Homo sapiens: one gene and its partners. The protein of the gene in region 3 interacts with the protein of the main gene of each other region in a pairwise test. Each region holds a gene or a part of one and is shown on either strand. Other genes may lie near its edges.

The links. The genes of interacting proteins can lie anywhere in the genome.
Region 1: the proteins of KLRC1 (region 3) and CD151 interact in binary tests that used the Homo sapiens proteins (3 or more experiments, as listed by UniProt).
Region 2: the proteins of KLRC1 (region 3) and C3orf52 interact in binary tests that used the Homo sapiens proteins (3 or more experiments, as listed by UniProt).
Region 4: the proteins of KLRC1 (region 3) and GJB4 interact in binary tests that used the Homo sapiens proteins (3 or more experiments, as listed by UniProt).

Annotation. Positions count from the first base shown.
Region 1 is NC_000011.10:835,952-839,331, reverse strand, and holds the end of CD151 (CD151 antigen), read right to left. Parts: intron 3,270-3,380; 5' UTR 3,263-3,269; coding exon 3,179-3,262; intron 3,082-3,178; coding exon 2,890-3,081; intron 2,564-2,889; coding exon 2,489-2,563; intron 2,083-2,488; coding exon 1,978-2,082; intron 1,873-1,977; coding exon 1,714-1,872; intron 1,391-1,713; coding exon 1,304-1,390; intron 1,200-1,303; coding exon 1,140-1,199; 3' UTR 501-1,139; downstream 1-500. UniProt on the Homo sapiens protein: Structural component of specialized membrane microdomains known as tetraspanin-enriched microdomains (TERMs), which act as platforms for receptor clustering and signaling.
Region 2 is NC_000003.12:112,103,389-112,106,888, reverse strand, and holds part of C3orf52 (TPA-induced transmembrane protein), read right to left. Parts: intron 1-3,500. UniProt on the Homo sapiens protein: Has a role in LIPH-mediated synthesis of 2-acyl lysophosphatidic acid (LPA). LPA is a bioactive lipid mediator involved in different biological processes, and necessary to promote hair formation and growth.
Region 3 is NC_000012.12:10,450,578-10,454,544, reverse strand, and holds the start of KLRC1 (NKG2-A/NKG2-B type II integral membrane protein), read left to right. Parts: upstream 1-1,167; 5' UTR 1,168-1,347; intron 1,348-3,357; 5' UTR 3,358-3,388; coding exon 3,389-3,575; intron 3,576-3,965; coding exon 3,966-3,967. UniProt on the Homo sapiens protein: Immune inhibitory receptor involved in self-nonself discrimination.
Region 4 is NC_000001.11:34,758,466-34,762,539, reverse strand, and holds GJB4 (gap junction beta-4 protein), read right to left. Parts: upstream 2,801-4,074; 5' UTR 2,752-2,800; intron 2,687-2,751; exon of another isoform or gene 2,405-2,686; intron 1,608-2,404; 5' UTR 1,286-1,607; coding exon 485-1,285; 3' UTR 213-484; downstream 1-212. UniProt on the Homo sapiens protein: Structural component of gap junctions. Gap junctions are dodecameric channels that connect the cytoplasm of adjoining cells. They are formed by the docking of two hexameric hemichannels, one from each cell membrane.

The DNA of each region.
Region 1 (3,380 bases), on a different chromosome or scaffold from region 3:
GTGGGGGGCACAATCAGTGACCGAGCCCTGGCTCCCATCTCCAGGGTACCTCTGCCAGACACCAGGCTCTGGTACCTCCTACCCTCTGGCCCCCAGCAGGGCCTATAGGCTCCTCCATGTAAACCCCCTCACCCTACTGCCCCCACCCCACCTGCCTGACACCTCTTACCTGGGCACGGCCCCCAGTCTGCACCCTTCCCACGTCTGCTCCCCACCATGGCCAGAAGGGTTTTGGAAACCATTTTTCCTCTCCCCCAGGGGCTCTGAACACACCATCTCACCATTTAGGAACATGTTCAGTTCTTTCTGCTGAGGCCTGTGCTCAGCTGTCCCTGGCATCAGACCTCCCTTCCCTGGAGCCCCATGGGGGGTGTGTCCTCCTGGCTCTGCCCTTCTTTGTCCTGACACTGGGCGGGGCGGGGGTGGGTCTGTCTGCCCTGCTGGATGCGAGGGCCCTGAGAACAGACCACCATCTGTTACCAGCACAGCGAGCTCGTCCATCTGCTCTACAAGTGTTTATTGAGCACCTGTATGTGGCAGGGATGGTTGTAGGCATCTGGGTACAGCAGTGAACAAAACCAGGAAGGCCCTGCCCCGCAGAGGCACATGAACAGGGCAGTGCACAGTGACCACGTGGCATTTCGGGTGGTGGTGACTGCGGTGGGGAAGACAGCAGGGGCGCTGTCGAGGGAGACGAGGGCTGGGTTGGGAGGGGCAGAGGCCCAGGCCCAAGGGTCAGAGCTCACCTGGCTTCCCCAACTGGGATGGGGCCATGTGGCTGCAAGGCAAGGCCCCAGTTCCTGAAGGGCCTGGGGTGTGAAGGGTTTCTCCCCCTGCTGGGAACGCTCGGCCTTGCGCCACTCAGCAAGGCCCCTTCCAACCTGCATCTGACCACCAGGCAGAGAGTGTGTCTGGGGAGCCCCACAAAACACCCCCCAAACTTCGCCCCGCCAGCCCCCCTCACCTCCCCTGCTGGGCATTGGTGCGCAGCAAAAGGCACTTGAAGCTGCCTCTGAGGTTGGGGTCCCCAGAGGTTATGGTGATGGCACAGGGTGGGTGTCATCAGGGAGCCCAGCCCCTGGTACTCAGTGGTCTCAGCTCAGTAGTTGGGTGCAGCAGCAGCAAGGCCCAAGGCAGGGTCAGTAGTGCTCCAGCTTGAGACTCCTGTACAGGCAGCACGTGAAGATCATGCCAAAGACCTGTGTGCAGAGCCGGGTGGGCGTAAGCAGACGTCATGGGGCCACCAGCCACCGCCCTGCCCCGTGTCCCCAACAAGATGACCGCCACCCCCATGTGCCCTCACCTGCACACAGGCAATGCCGATCCCCACAGCCCCAATGACCCTCAGGTGCTCCTGGATGAAGGTCTCCAACTTGGTGATGCAGCCGCCCTGCGGGGCGCGGATGGGTGTTGAAGGCGGGCCCAGGGGGCACCTCCCACTGGCCCCTACTGCCTCCAGCCTCCAGGGTGTGGCCAAACCCACCCCTAGCACCTAGGCAGCCAGGCCACCAACAGCTCAGCCAGCCACTGGGCTGCCCACCCACTTCCTCGTAGATATTGGAGGTGTGGTCTCACTGCCCACATCCGGCCACTGGGGTGACCCCCCACCTCCTGGTAGATATTGGAGGCGTGTCCCACTGCCCACAGCCAGTCACTGGGGTGCCCCCCCACCACCTCGTAGACACTGGAGGCATGATCCCGCTGCACACCCACCTCCACCTTGTAGATGTTGGAGGCATGGTCTCGCTGCCCACAAAGAGCCACCACCGTCTTGCAGCAGCTGTCTGGGACCACACGGCCACCGGCCTCCTGTGAGCGGATCCACTCACTGTCTCGCCAGTCCTGTGAGTTGTTGCTGCCACAGCAGTGGAACTGCATCAAGAACAAGGCTGGGGTTGAGACCTGGGGCCAGAGGCTCCTGCAGAGGTCCAGGGAGGCCCTGGGGATGCACGCGCCCTCCCAGCACCACCCACCCACCTCCTGCTGCAGCTGGTCCACAGCGCTGGTCACAGCCTCATGGCCCGGCTGGTGGTAGCGCTTGGTCATGGTGTCCTTCAGGTTCTCCTTGAGCTCCGTGTTCAGCTGGGGTTGGGGTGCAGGAAACTTCAGCCTCAGTCTAAGACCTTCCAAGGTGGGGCTGGCAGAGCCCCAGGATGGCCGGTGGGGAGGCCCGGGGCCCAGCTCAGAGCCACAGGGAAGGGCTGAGGTCACACCTCGGCATGAGGGGAGGTTGGGTGGTGCCAGGACCGTCACCAGGGTGACAATGAAGTGCGGCAGAGGCAGAGAGAGCTTCTGGATCCCCTGGACACCTGCCTGACCCCATGTGCCCCTGCAGAGACCTAGACCCCATCTCCAGGGCCCAGTGGCACATTGGTTAGCTCTGGGACCATGGGGGTGGGGGTTGGGGCTAGCCACGCGTGTGCATGTGTGTGTGTCCGCCCCGCCTGTGCATGTCTGTGTCTCTGAATGGCCTGCCCAGGCCCCTCACCTGCTGGTAGTAGGCGTAGGCGAGGATACCAGCGATGATCTCCAGCAGAAAGATGATGAGGAGCAGGATGAAGTACTGGGGGGGGCAGCACAAGGGCACCCTTGTTCTGAGGCCTAGTGCCTAGACCTAGTGCACCTCAGAGCAGAGTCCCCACCCCGGCTCCCCAGGCTCCAGGTGGGGGCTGAGGGGCGGCCACCCTCCCTGAAGCTTTCTTGCGGAGCTGGTGTCTTCCCTCAGCTGGTCCAGCAGGAACGTGGGGACCCACAGGACTAGGCAGGTGTGGAAGGACCGTGACCCCCCCCCCAGGTGAGCACAGCAAGGCACAGGTTCAAAGCCTGCAGCGACAACCTCCTTGGGCCCATCTGCACCACCCCCACCCCGTGGCCCTGCGCCCTCCTGACCAGGCGCAGCAGGTTCCGACGCTCCTTGAAGGTGGCGCAGCAGCCCAAGACCCCAGTCACCATGACGACAGTGCCCGCCACCACCAGGATGTAGGCTGTGGCCAGGTAGGTGCCTGAGGCCAGCAGGCTGATGTAGTCACTCTTGAGGGCCAGCGTCCAGATGCCCACTGCCATGACAGCCAGGCCAGCCAGCTACAAGCAGTACACAAAGGTCATCGCATCTGCCCAGGTCTGATGGTGGCCCGGGAGGGGTGGGGGTGGGGGTGGGGGCAAGGCGACCCCTCCTCACCCAGAAGCAGCAATTGTAGGTAAACAGCAGGTACTTGAGGCAAACGGTGCCACATGTTGTCTTCTTCTCGTTGAACTCACCCATCCTGGGGCTGAGGAGGCAGGGGAGGGGTCAGCGGGGCCACAGCACCGGGCCCCTGACTGGGAGACGGATAGGAGGGGACACAGGGCCAGGCGCGGTGGCTCACGCCTGTAATCCCAGC
Region 2 (3,500 bases), on a different chromosome or scaffold from region 3:
ATGCAGTGGCTAATTAGAGACCAGCTTCCAGAATAAGGCAGGTGCCATCATTAACTCCTAACCCATGCACAGGGTGTGGTAGTCACACAGGCTGGCTTAAGCAGAGTAATGGCCCCAACCCTGAGAGGAAAACACTGTGGCAGTGACACATGGCAGGGCCTGTGTTTAGAAAAGTCAAGGGAAAGGGCATAAAGTTCCAATACTGTGATATAATAACAATATGTATACTGTTTAGTCTCTGCCCCAGTTCCTGGCACAGAATTCCTAAAACCCTTGTTACTTCCTGAGTGACAGGGGCGCCGGGTACATCTTTTACTCTAACATTTGGTCTTTACTCCAGCTCCTGACACAGACCTGCTCCTAAATCTCTTGCAGTTTCCTGGGTTATAGGAGTGTCTTTATTTCTGATGAGGCAACTCTTGGCGGGCTGCTGGATGGGGGCTGATCATCAGAAAGACCAAGCCGCAGCTAGAAGCTTGGAACTTTCAGCCAGTGTGGTGGAGTGGGATGGTGCATGCGTGTAGTCCCAGCTACTCGGGAGACTGAGCAGGGAGAATCGCTTGAGGCCAGGAGCTTGATATCAGCCTAGGCAATATAGTGAAAACTGTCTGGAGAAAAAAAAAAGAAGAAGAAGAAATCTGAAGCTTTTGGCCCCACCTCCACCCCCATCCTCCAGAGGGGAGAGAGGCTGGAAAGCAAGCTAATAATCCACCATGCCTATGTGAGGAAATCTCCATAAAAATCCCTAAAAGACAGAGTCTGGAGAGCTCCCAGGTGGCTGAACACATTTACAAGGGAGAGTGGCACACCTGAAAGGACATGGATGCCCACATTCTGTCCCACGTGTCCGCCCTATGTACCTTTTTATCTGGCTTTTGATATCCTCTATTTTCTACAGTGTGCCCATAAATGTGATGCTTCCCTGAGCTCTGTGAGCCATTCTAGCAAATGACCAAACCCAAGGTGGGGGTTTTGGAGACCTCCAATTTGCAGCTGGTTGGTCAGAAGCACAAGTGACAACCTAGACTTGTAACTGAACTGGCATCTTTTTTTTTTTTTTTTTTTGGAGACTAAGTCTCGCTCTGTTGCCCAGGCTGGAGTGCAGTGGCACGGTCTCGGCTCACTGCAAGCTCTGCCTGCCGGGTTCACACCATTCGCCTGCCTCAGCCTCCCGTAACTGGCATCTTAAATGAGGGAAGTTTTGTGGGGCTGAACCCTTAAACTATGGGGTCTGCACTAACTCCAGGCAGATCATGTCAGAATTGAACTGGATTGCAAGACACCCAGCTGGTGGCAGATAATTGGTTGGTGTGGAAAACACACACACACACACACACACACACACACACGGCCAAAGAAGTGTTCTGCATTGAATGTGGGTATAGAGAAAAAAATAATTTTTCCCCCACAAATACCCACTTCCATTTACCTTTTATATCCAGAAACTTCTGAAACTTGACCTAATGGAAGAAAGGAGTTATTGACCTGACAATAAGACAGCAATACCTTTAGGTGCTAATTTTTGTTCCTGAGCATATTTGGTTGACGAATGAAGGGCAGGAATCTGTCACCTCACTATGCCTTACTTTGATCATTTGTAAATAAGATAATTCTTTTAAAATGTTTTTCAAGTTATTTTTATGTAATCTCATTTGCACCTGAGATACACAGAGAAAGTGCACTGGTTTCCATTTATCAGCGAAGAAACTGGCTCAAAGAAATCTGTGGACCCACCACAGGCATCAATGTCAGTCCCTGTTCTTTTGCCACTACCTAGTGATGAGCTCAAAATACCCGCAGAATTTCCTCATATCTGACTCTGTGCAAGATATATGGTTGTAAAATGAAAAATGAACATTCATTTACCTTTGAAATAGACAGTCTACTATGCAACAGGTGACACATGTGGATGCTGACTCATCTTATTTCTGCTCAGCAAATGCAAAAACCTCTCCATTAAAAAAGCAGCCAAGAGGAAAGTAGCAAGAAGCGTCTCACTCAGCAACTTGCCCCAGGAAGCAGGTGGAAGGAAAGGAGAAAAGGAGGTGAAGATAAGACATAAATGAAGAGACTTCAAGGACTTGATGGAAAAGGTGGTGGGGGTGAGGGATAAAAGACTACAAATTGGGCACAGTGTACACTGCTCGGGTAATGGGTGCACCAAAATCTCAGAAATCACCACCAAAGAACTTATTCATGTAACCAAATACCACCTGGTCCCCCAAAACCTACGGAAATAAAAAATAAAAATAAATAAATAAATTTAAACAATCTAAAAAAAATTTAAAGATATAAATGAAGAGAAGGAGAAAGAGAAATCTGGAGTAATCATCACAGGATACCAACTCCTGTGATAAAAGAAGCAATGAAATCTCATGCGTGGGTACCCAGAAACTGATTCTGATGTGACCTGGATGGAATCGCCTCTTCAGGAGCTTTTGTAGGAATCAAATCGAATGGAAGTTAGATAAACAGCACTCACTCCATTCAACCTAGCAATGGCAGAGAAGAATTTAATGGAGGGCAGCCTGCTCTTGCCTAGATTTTCTTATCAAAATTTCTGGGTCTGGCTGTGAACCACCTTGTCTTTGACAGGATGATCAGGATGCCCCACCCAACGGTCCTAGTCTGGCTGCAGAGCTTCCATCTTCCACAGAGGGTTCATTCTCCTGGGTTTCTCATCCCATGACTGACACCGCCATCCATCTGCCCAATCACTCAACTGGAGCTTGGAGTCATGCTCTCCTCACCACCACCCAATCAGTCATGGACTCTTATTGAGTGAGAATACCTCTTAAATCTCACGCAAATCTTCCTTATTTTCCCGACACTGCCCTAGTTCAAGTCTCCCTCATTTCTCACCTGGACTATTGTAACACCTTCTAACTGATCTCTTCCTCCTGGCTTTCTCCACCAAAACACAGAAAGGCTAAAAGGAAAAATCTAACTGTGTCAATCTGCTGATTAAAATATTTTGGTGCCTTATTGAAGAGTGGGAAAGCCTTCATGACCTGACGCCTGCCTTCCTTTTTAGCCTTATCTCTGCCAGCTGTCACCACAAAGCATGGGAAGGCCACAGTACACTACTTTGCAGATCCTTTAATGTCCCATGCTTTTTTATTTAGAACATTCCTACCTCATTTCAAAACTCATCCTGAGCATCACTTCACTTAACAGGCCTTTCATGCCTTCATCTTCACCTGAGGTAGCTCAGATGCCCCTCCTTTGCCACTGTACAACACACTAGAACATACCACACTATTATAAAACGATCTTTTTAGTCACTTCCTGTACTTGGACTGTGAGACCCCTGAAGGCACAGACAATGTGGCCCTGGCACTTGGCATGCTGTCTAGCACATCACAGACCCTCAATGAATACTATAGGTTGAATTAAATGTAGGACCTAAGGGAGTAAAAAGAACAGTGTCCTCCAGCATTTATGCAGCTGGAGGCCAGGAATCTTCCCTCTGGCTTTGCACTACAGTAAAGATATTTACT
Region 3 (3,967 bases):
GGCTGACACTAGTTAAAGCCAAGTTAGAGGGCTGTTTCAGGGTCTACATTGAGACTACAGTTGATATGCCTACCTCCTGAGACACTAGTGTGTGAGTCTCCTCCTGGGCCCCTGGGCAAATGGTTTTGGCAGCATGACCAAGGCCTAAATGGGGCTGAAGGCAAGCACAGGAGGATGGGTCCCTTTTCAGGTCTGGAGATGGAATCACTGTTGGTAAGTCTGCCACTTGGATGCAAATCTATTCCCTAAAACAACCTTCCTAGGTCTTGGGTTCCACTGGCATTTTACAAACTCCTACTTGAATTCCAAACTCCCTCAAAGGAACTTTTGTCTGTGGATGGCTGAAAAATTATTGTTGCTGTGGGGGCATATGTGTGGGGGACCACCTATTCTGCCAATTTACTGACTTTCCTCCTAGTAAGATTTTAAAATTACTTTTTCCCCATACATAGTTTGACTTCAGTTTTTGTCATTTACAACTAAATATTTCTATGAAAGTCGACATAATTTGTTATGGCGGAGGATGAATAAATGAAGAATGTAATGAATAGCTATTTAATATTTCAATTTCTGGTATGCTAATATATTTCAAAATTGATTAATATTTTACCTATCCAAGATATTTTTATCAAGGGTAATCTGAAGATTAAATAATCTATTTTTAAAAATTAAGTGCAAAAATTTAAGAACTAAGAGAAGTTAATAATATAACTTTGGCAATGATGCTTTTTGTGCCAGCTACAATCAATTGAGTAATTACTGCAGTAATTTTTCAGAATAATTAAGGAAAAAATCAGTAGATATCAGTTGATAATATTACTATGAGTTTTAGAATGTTTTCTATTATAATGGAAGTGACATAATAAAATAATATAAAGAAAAGAAGTATGCAATGTTAAGATTTAGCAACCTAGTCTAAAAGGCACTCTTAACAAGGTGAGGGTTGACAATGTTCGTGATCAAGACAGAAAAAAAAAAAATTCTCATAGGCACTTGAAAAATGAACCAACTAAATGACACACTTTCAAAGTCAACCTTGTACTTTTAATAGACCAAGTATCCTATATTTTGGAGGTGTGTGATGAGATAAAACTGATTTCACAATAGCCCATGTGTAGAATTTCCTGTTCAAACCTTAGTAACACGTTGATGAGAAATCTACTTTTTCCACTCTTGACTCACTCTGAGCCTTCACAGGGCAGTCTGCGAAGATTGCAGGCATTGTTTGTTCTTGTCTTGGATTTATGCCTTTAAATTTCACCTTTTATTACACAGCTATAGCAGGCCTTTTTATGAGACTAACCTGGCCTCTCCACTAAAGGATGTGTGACTTTCTGGGGACAGAAGGTATGTATTGCTACTCTCCAACTCTCTACTAGCCTACCTCATTTAGTGGGTGATTTCAAGTGCTCAATATGATACAAAGGAGGTATAATTAATATACAATAAAATCAAAGTAGAATATTGCTGTCTTCATTTGAATAACTCAGGGTAAAAACCTAAAATATGAAATATGTTGAAGGATTTCTTAAAGTTTTCAAATTATTGTTTGTGGAAATCTAGTGGGTTTGTTGATCAATATCGTTTAAGGGAAAGCTATTAACATCACAATAATGAACAATTAATTTTGTATTTTGTAATCAGTACATCATGTATCTTTGAATAATAATTTATATTTAGCTTAGCCATTAAAGATTATTAAAATAAATCAATCAATTGATGAAAGCCAAATACAATTCCTCAGACACGTAGATTAGAGAAAAGCAGTTTTTATTTTTAATAAAAATCAGAATGAGGTAGATTACATAAAATGCTAAAGGTATTACAAAGCAATAAAAATACTTTTTAAAAATTGATCAAAATATTGCAAAAAAAGATGTAGCGCATGGACATAGGAGACTTATCTGAAGATTTATTTTCCATGCTTTAACTGACATGAATCAGAAACAGTAACATAACAATTGTGACTAAAATAATAATTAAAGTAGCTAATGCTTATTGAGAACTTTAAGTGCCAGGTTGAGTGGTAAATGTTTTACATGCAACGTTTTATATGTTCTTATGCCCATTTTAGATTAACAAACTGGGTTATTAAAAATAGAATAACTTTTTAAAGGTCGCACATTATAAGTGTCAAAGCTAGAATTAATTCTAGATCTCACTGACTCCAGAGCCCATTGACTAAATGATTTAATTACATTATCTGAAATTTTACAAGTACTTATACAACTAAAGTGGCCTTTACTCACTTTGACAACCATAAAATCATTCTATAAGTTTAAATGAAATGTGCTTTAACATGAATTACCTATACTTTTATTTATCATTTTTTGGTTCATAATTTAGCCAGGAAATAAATTACCAATTACTAATTAAATTACCAATACTTCTGTAAGTATTAACAATTTATGTAGTGTTCCTAATACTATTTAGGTTATGCATAAGTTAACTGTGTCACATAGCATTTTCTGTCATATACAAATATTTAATTTTTTATAATTTTTAATAAATAATTTTTAATAATTTCTTAGAACATTTCAGCCATTAAGAAAAGACCATTTAATTACCTCTATTGATTTTCATTAATGTGTATAAATTACTAATTAAAAGTAATGTAGTGCAAGAAATTTTTATATATATATATGTCAACTTTACTATTACTCATGTGCAGACCACATAGTCTTAACCATTACTGGATTTCAAAATTAACATAAAAATGAGTGCAGAAGTTTTTCTAATACAACATTTTAATTTTTAACACAGGTAAAACATCAGACTTTAAGAAATATATTTTTATTCCTGAACTTCTTTATTCCTTAGTAATTTATTGCTTCTCATTGCCCCAGCAATAATATTTTGTCAAATGCAGAAAATTTATCTTTTTTTTTTGAGTCGGAGTCTCACTCTGTCGCCCAGGCTGGAGTGCAGTGGCACAATCTCCGCTCACTGCAACCTCTGCCGCCCATGTTCAAGAGATTCTCCTGCCTCAGCCTCCCGAGTAGCTAGGACTACAGGCGCCTGACATCATGCCCGACTACTTTTTGTATTTTTAGTAGAGACGGAGTTTCACCGTGTTAGCCAGGATGGTCTCGATCTCCTGACCTCGTGATCGGCATGCCTCGGCCTCCCAAAGTGCTGGGATTACAGGCGTGAGCCACCGCGCCCGGCCTAAAAATCTTTTTTTAAAACAAATATTCATAAGAAACGTGTTTAGGCTTGAAGAAAATCAGAGAAAGAACTTTAGATTATTTAATGCAAAATGAGCTCCAATACTCGTTCTCCACCTCACCCTTTTAATTGCACTAGGGAATCCTGTATATAAACCATTTATTAACTTCTTAACTACTGTTATTATAGAGTACAGTCCCTGACATCACACACTGCAGAGATGGATAACCAAGGAGTAATCTACTCAGACCTGAATCTGCCCCCAAACCCAAAGAGGCAGCAACGAAAACCTAAAGGCAATAAAAACTCCATTTTAGCAACTGAACAGGAAATAACCTATGCGGAATTAAACCTTCAAAAAGCTTCTCAGGATTTTCAAGGGAATGACAAAACCTATCACTGCAAAGGTAAAGCATTTAAAAGATCCTCAATATAACAGTCTAGGATGTGCAGCTTGGGGTACAGGAATGTGGGGAAAGAGAAGGGAGTGCTCATATATCTTCTATTTGCAAAGATCAGAATTCCAAGTTGAGATATGCTATTTCAATGTAAAGTATGAAGACTGATTGAACTCATTGTTGAAGTTTGTAGTCTTTGTCAAATAATTCATGGAGCATTATTTTTCCTGAAAATTCAATGGTATATTATTCTGAGAAAAAGATTACAATGGGAGATGAGGGTTTGGGGTCCAAGTTTCTCTGTATGATTCCTGTGCATTCAGGTTCTCTTGTCTGTGAATCTTCTAAACGACTGTATCCACCTCTCCTTTCGCACTGTTCCCATTTCTCTCCCTGCAGAT
Region 4 (4,074 bases), on a different chromosome or scaffold from region 3:
CCAGAGGCCCCTGGAGTAGCCTCTGCCTTTGGGCACAGCCCATCATGTTCTGGGGGCACACACTGTGTGTGTTGGGGGGTGATGGGTGAGCCTGGATCTGAGGTTCCAGTGCTCAGGTGCTCACTGAGTAGTCTTGGCATCCTCTCTGAGGTCCACCTAATCCCCCCTGCCCCCCGTTTTCCTATCGGCCACTCCCCACCTGGTCTGCAAAGTACTGGGAAAATCATATTTATTAAGAGGTTTGACATATACTGTTGCCATATACAAAATCCCCAGTAGCTATCAACCTCCCTCCCCTGAGGCTCAGGACCCAGGGACCAAACTACCCCCAACCTCCCACATTGGCCCCTGGGCGAGCTTCCTGAGCCCCCACAGCCACCCTCCTCACCACCCTGCTACGGCAAGGATGCCACTGCCCCTGCCTTTTTTCCTGGGTGGCCTCATGTGGGGGGGACCTGTTGATCTTATCTGCTGATCTCGCAGGTTATGGATACCCACCTGCATCCACTGGGGCCGACCCAGCCTTCATTAGGACAGAGTTCCCATCCTCAGGGTGCCCTCCCTGGGAGAGGACATATGGTGGGCACGTATCGGGTAGGCATTCCCGGCACCGAGGCCGCCGGTGCCTGGGGCCGAAGATCTCCATGCACCTCTTGCCCACCAGGTAGAAGACTTCACTGAGGTTGAGCAGGATGCAGATGGCAGCTGTGGTCACCATGAAGTAGGTGAAGACCTTCTTCTCCGTGGGCCGGGAGATGTAACAGTCCACAGTGTGGGGGCAAGGCTCCACGGAGCAGGCCACCACGCGGGGCATGTCATAATCCTTGTAGAGGCGGTGGAAGATATAGAGGAAGCCAGCATCCACGGCGGCCTTGAAGATGAGGCTCAGCAAGTACGTCCACCACAGTCCGCCCCGCTTCTTGCTCAGGTTGTCGTACAGGGACGGGGCATTGGGCCCGTGTTTCAGGTGGTGCTTGCGCTCGCGTTCCTCGCGGTAGGCCACGTGCATGACCACGAGCAGTGAGGGGCACGTGACCAGGATGAGCTGTAGGGCCCAGAGGCGCACGTGGGACACGGGGAAGAACTCGTCATAGCAGACGTTGGGGCAGCCGGGCTGCTTGGTGTTGCAGACAAAGTCCTTCTGCTCATCGTCCCACACCTCCTCCGCTGCCACCACGTACACCAGCACACGAAAGATGAACACCACAGACAGCCAGATGCGGCTCAGCACTGTGGAGTACTTGTTCACGCCACTCAGCAGGCCCTGCAGAAATGCCCAGTTCATGCTGGCTGTGTCCTGGGTGCTGCACGTGGAAGGTCTATACCTGGGTGCTACCTGCCCACTCAGGCCTTGGGAGCCTTGAGGCCTGGGGGAACCTGGAGATGGGCACCCTTAATGCTGGTGCGATTGACAAAATCTTTTCACAATCACCGTGTCATCATGTCTTCACTCCCAATGACTTGGTAGGGTAGGGATTGCCCCTGTCCTCATTTCACAAAGAGTAAGTGAAGGCCCAGAGATACCTGCCCAATGGTCCACAGATGGAAGTAGCAGAGCTAATCTTGCACTTTGGTCTTCAGGTTCCAAAATCAGGGTCTACCTTATTCTACAAGGTAATAGATACATGTGAAGACAATCATCCTGCATGGATATGCCAGCCAACCTCTATTACCCCAAGTTTCAGCCCATGTCTTCTAAAGAGACCGTAGGAAGGCTTGAATTGGACGATCTGCTCTCCCATCAGCTGCCAGGGCTGGGCCAGGGCAGGAGGGGTGGGAACGTATCCTTATCAGTTGTCAGATCCATCCCACTTTTACTGAACACCAACAAGAGCCTGGCCCCGTGTTGGGGACGTTCACATCAGCCCCTTGGTAAATCCCAGAACAATCTGCATCCTTACTCCTTGCCTCTGGCTCCAGGAAGGTTCTCAGCCCTGGCATTCCCTCCCAAACTAAACAGAGGTGCTTTGGAATCACGGGGACTTGATATCATCCCTGCCAACCCGTGTACTGGTGCTGGGGCCTGAGGGCTGACTGTCTTGACCACAGTGGGTTCCTCTGGAATTCCAACCATTCCAGCTTTAGGAAGGACTGAGGATGGATTCTGGCATGGTCTGGACCCCCCATTTACTTTCTCTGGGGGCACCCCCTCCTCTGTCCATTTAGTGGCTGTTTGCTAGCCGCATTTCCATTATTTCCTCTCAGGCCCCTCTCCTGTGGACTCTGACCTCCACACCCCCTTGTCTGGAGTCCCCATCAGGCCCCATGTCCAACCCTCCCCTCCTCCTACCCTCCTCCTTCCCCATCCCCAATCCCTGACTCTGCTCTCAGCCTCTTCAGACATCGTGTGCCTGGGACACTTTCAGAGCAAGAGGCATCGCCTGTACCCAAATGGTCTATTTACCTGTCTTATTTTTTTGCCAGGCTGTCAGCTGCTAGAGGGCAGGCTCTTCACCTCTGTCTCCCTAGCACCTAGCACTGGCCTGGCCCAGTGAACACACAATAGATGTTTGTTAAACTGAACTGAAACCCATTTCTTCCTGATACCCCCTCTTCCCCAATCTTCTGTCGTCCCTTAGGTCAGCCAGGACATTCCTTCTCCTCCTTGGCACTTCCCTGGGGATCCTCTAGGGACACTGACCCTCTGGCTCCCTCCCTGAAGCCCAGCCCACAGCCTGAGGTCCCTTGGATATCCTCAGCTCAGCTGGTTGCTTGCTTCCTGGCCAGCCTCCTGCCCTATTCGGTCCTCACCCTTCTTGGGTCCAGTAGCTGCTTCCTTGTCCTTGGGCTTGTCTGTTTGCCTCAGGACCTCCCGGAGGCAGCTTTTGTTCCTCTCTCCCTTGCTGGGTGGGGCTTTCTGGGCCAATGAGCCAAGCGAGAGTGATTGGGTGGGCAGGCAGGAGGGCGGACTTCCCCGGGCACATACTCAGAGCAAACACCTGCGGCTCTTCTCTCCTGGCCCACGCCTCCTCTCTAGCCTGGCTGGGTATGGCTGAGCCTGGCTCCCAGGCAGGCAGGTATGTGGGTGAGACTGCTGTGTGGGGTTCAGGAGCCTGATATCATTATGCCTAGGCCTAGGACAGCACCAGTGGGATTGACCCTGTCCCCTTCCCATTGCCTCCTTACCCTGCCTCCTTGCCCTCTCTCCTGCCCTTTTCCTGGGAAGCCTGATACTGAGGTCTCAGCAGCTGACATCTACGGAAAGGGGCAACCTTAATTTAGTGCAGGAACGCATCCCATTCTGGTGGTGGGATATTTCTGGGACTGGAGTCTGGAAGCTCTTGGATTGTGTAGGAAATGGGAGGGGTCAACTATGACTTTTCTAGACCAGGGCACCCATAGCCTTGGTGGAGGCAAGGAATGCAGGTCAGCAGCATGAAATGCCCCAGTTAGCACAGGGCCAGGCACAGCATCGCTGTCCATCCTCTGTGGGTCCTGGGGAAGGCCTCCAGGGAGGCTGGAGTGTGACCTCACATATGCTGGTGGGGGGCCTGGGACCTGTGTTCTGGCTGGGATGATGAAGGTTAATGTGCAGCTAGGGAGGGGCCTTCTGCCTCGTTTCTCACAGGCATTATCAAGCACTTCCTAATACCAATGATTAACATTTATGTGTCCTTTTACAGCTGGCTAGCCCTGTCCACAGCCATGAGCTCATCAGTCCTCAGCACAACCCCACAGGCTAGGTATTATTAACCCATTTTGGAGAGAAGCTTAAGTTACTTTCCCAGAGTCCCGGTGGAACTTGGATTCGACACAGGCATTCTAAGTTCATGAACTTCCCACTGCAACATGGACTAAGCTCCATTCTCTCTGCAGACAACCCACAGGACTAAACTTGCCATGGGGGATAAAGGCTAGATGGGAGCATGAGCAAGTAGCACGTCCCCTGGAGTACTGGGGGCCCCCTTTCTGGAAGAGAGGATGCCCCTCACAGGCTGGATCAAGTGCAGCTCTTCACGGGGGCAGAGAGATTGACACCATGAACGTGTGAGGGTCACGAAGGCCGCACAACCAGAGGGCACCTGGAACCAGCAAATGAGTTGACTTTTATTAAGTTCTGACAGTGGGCCACAC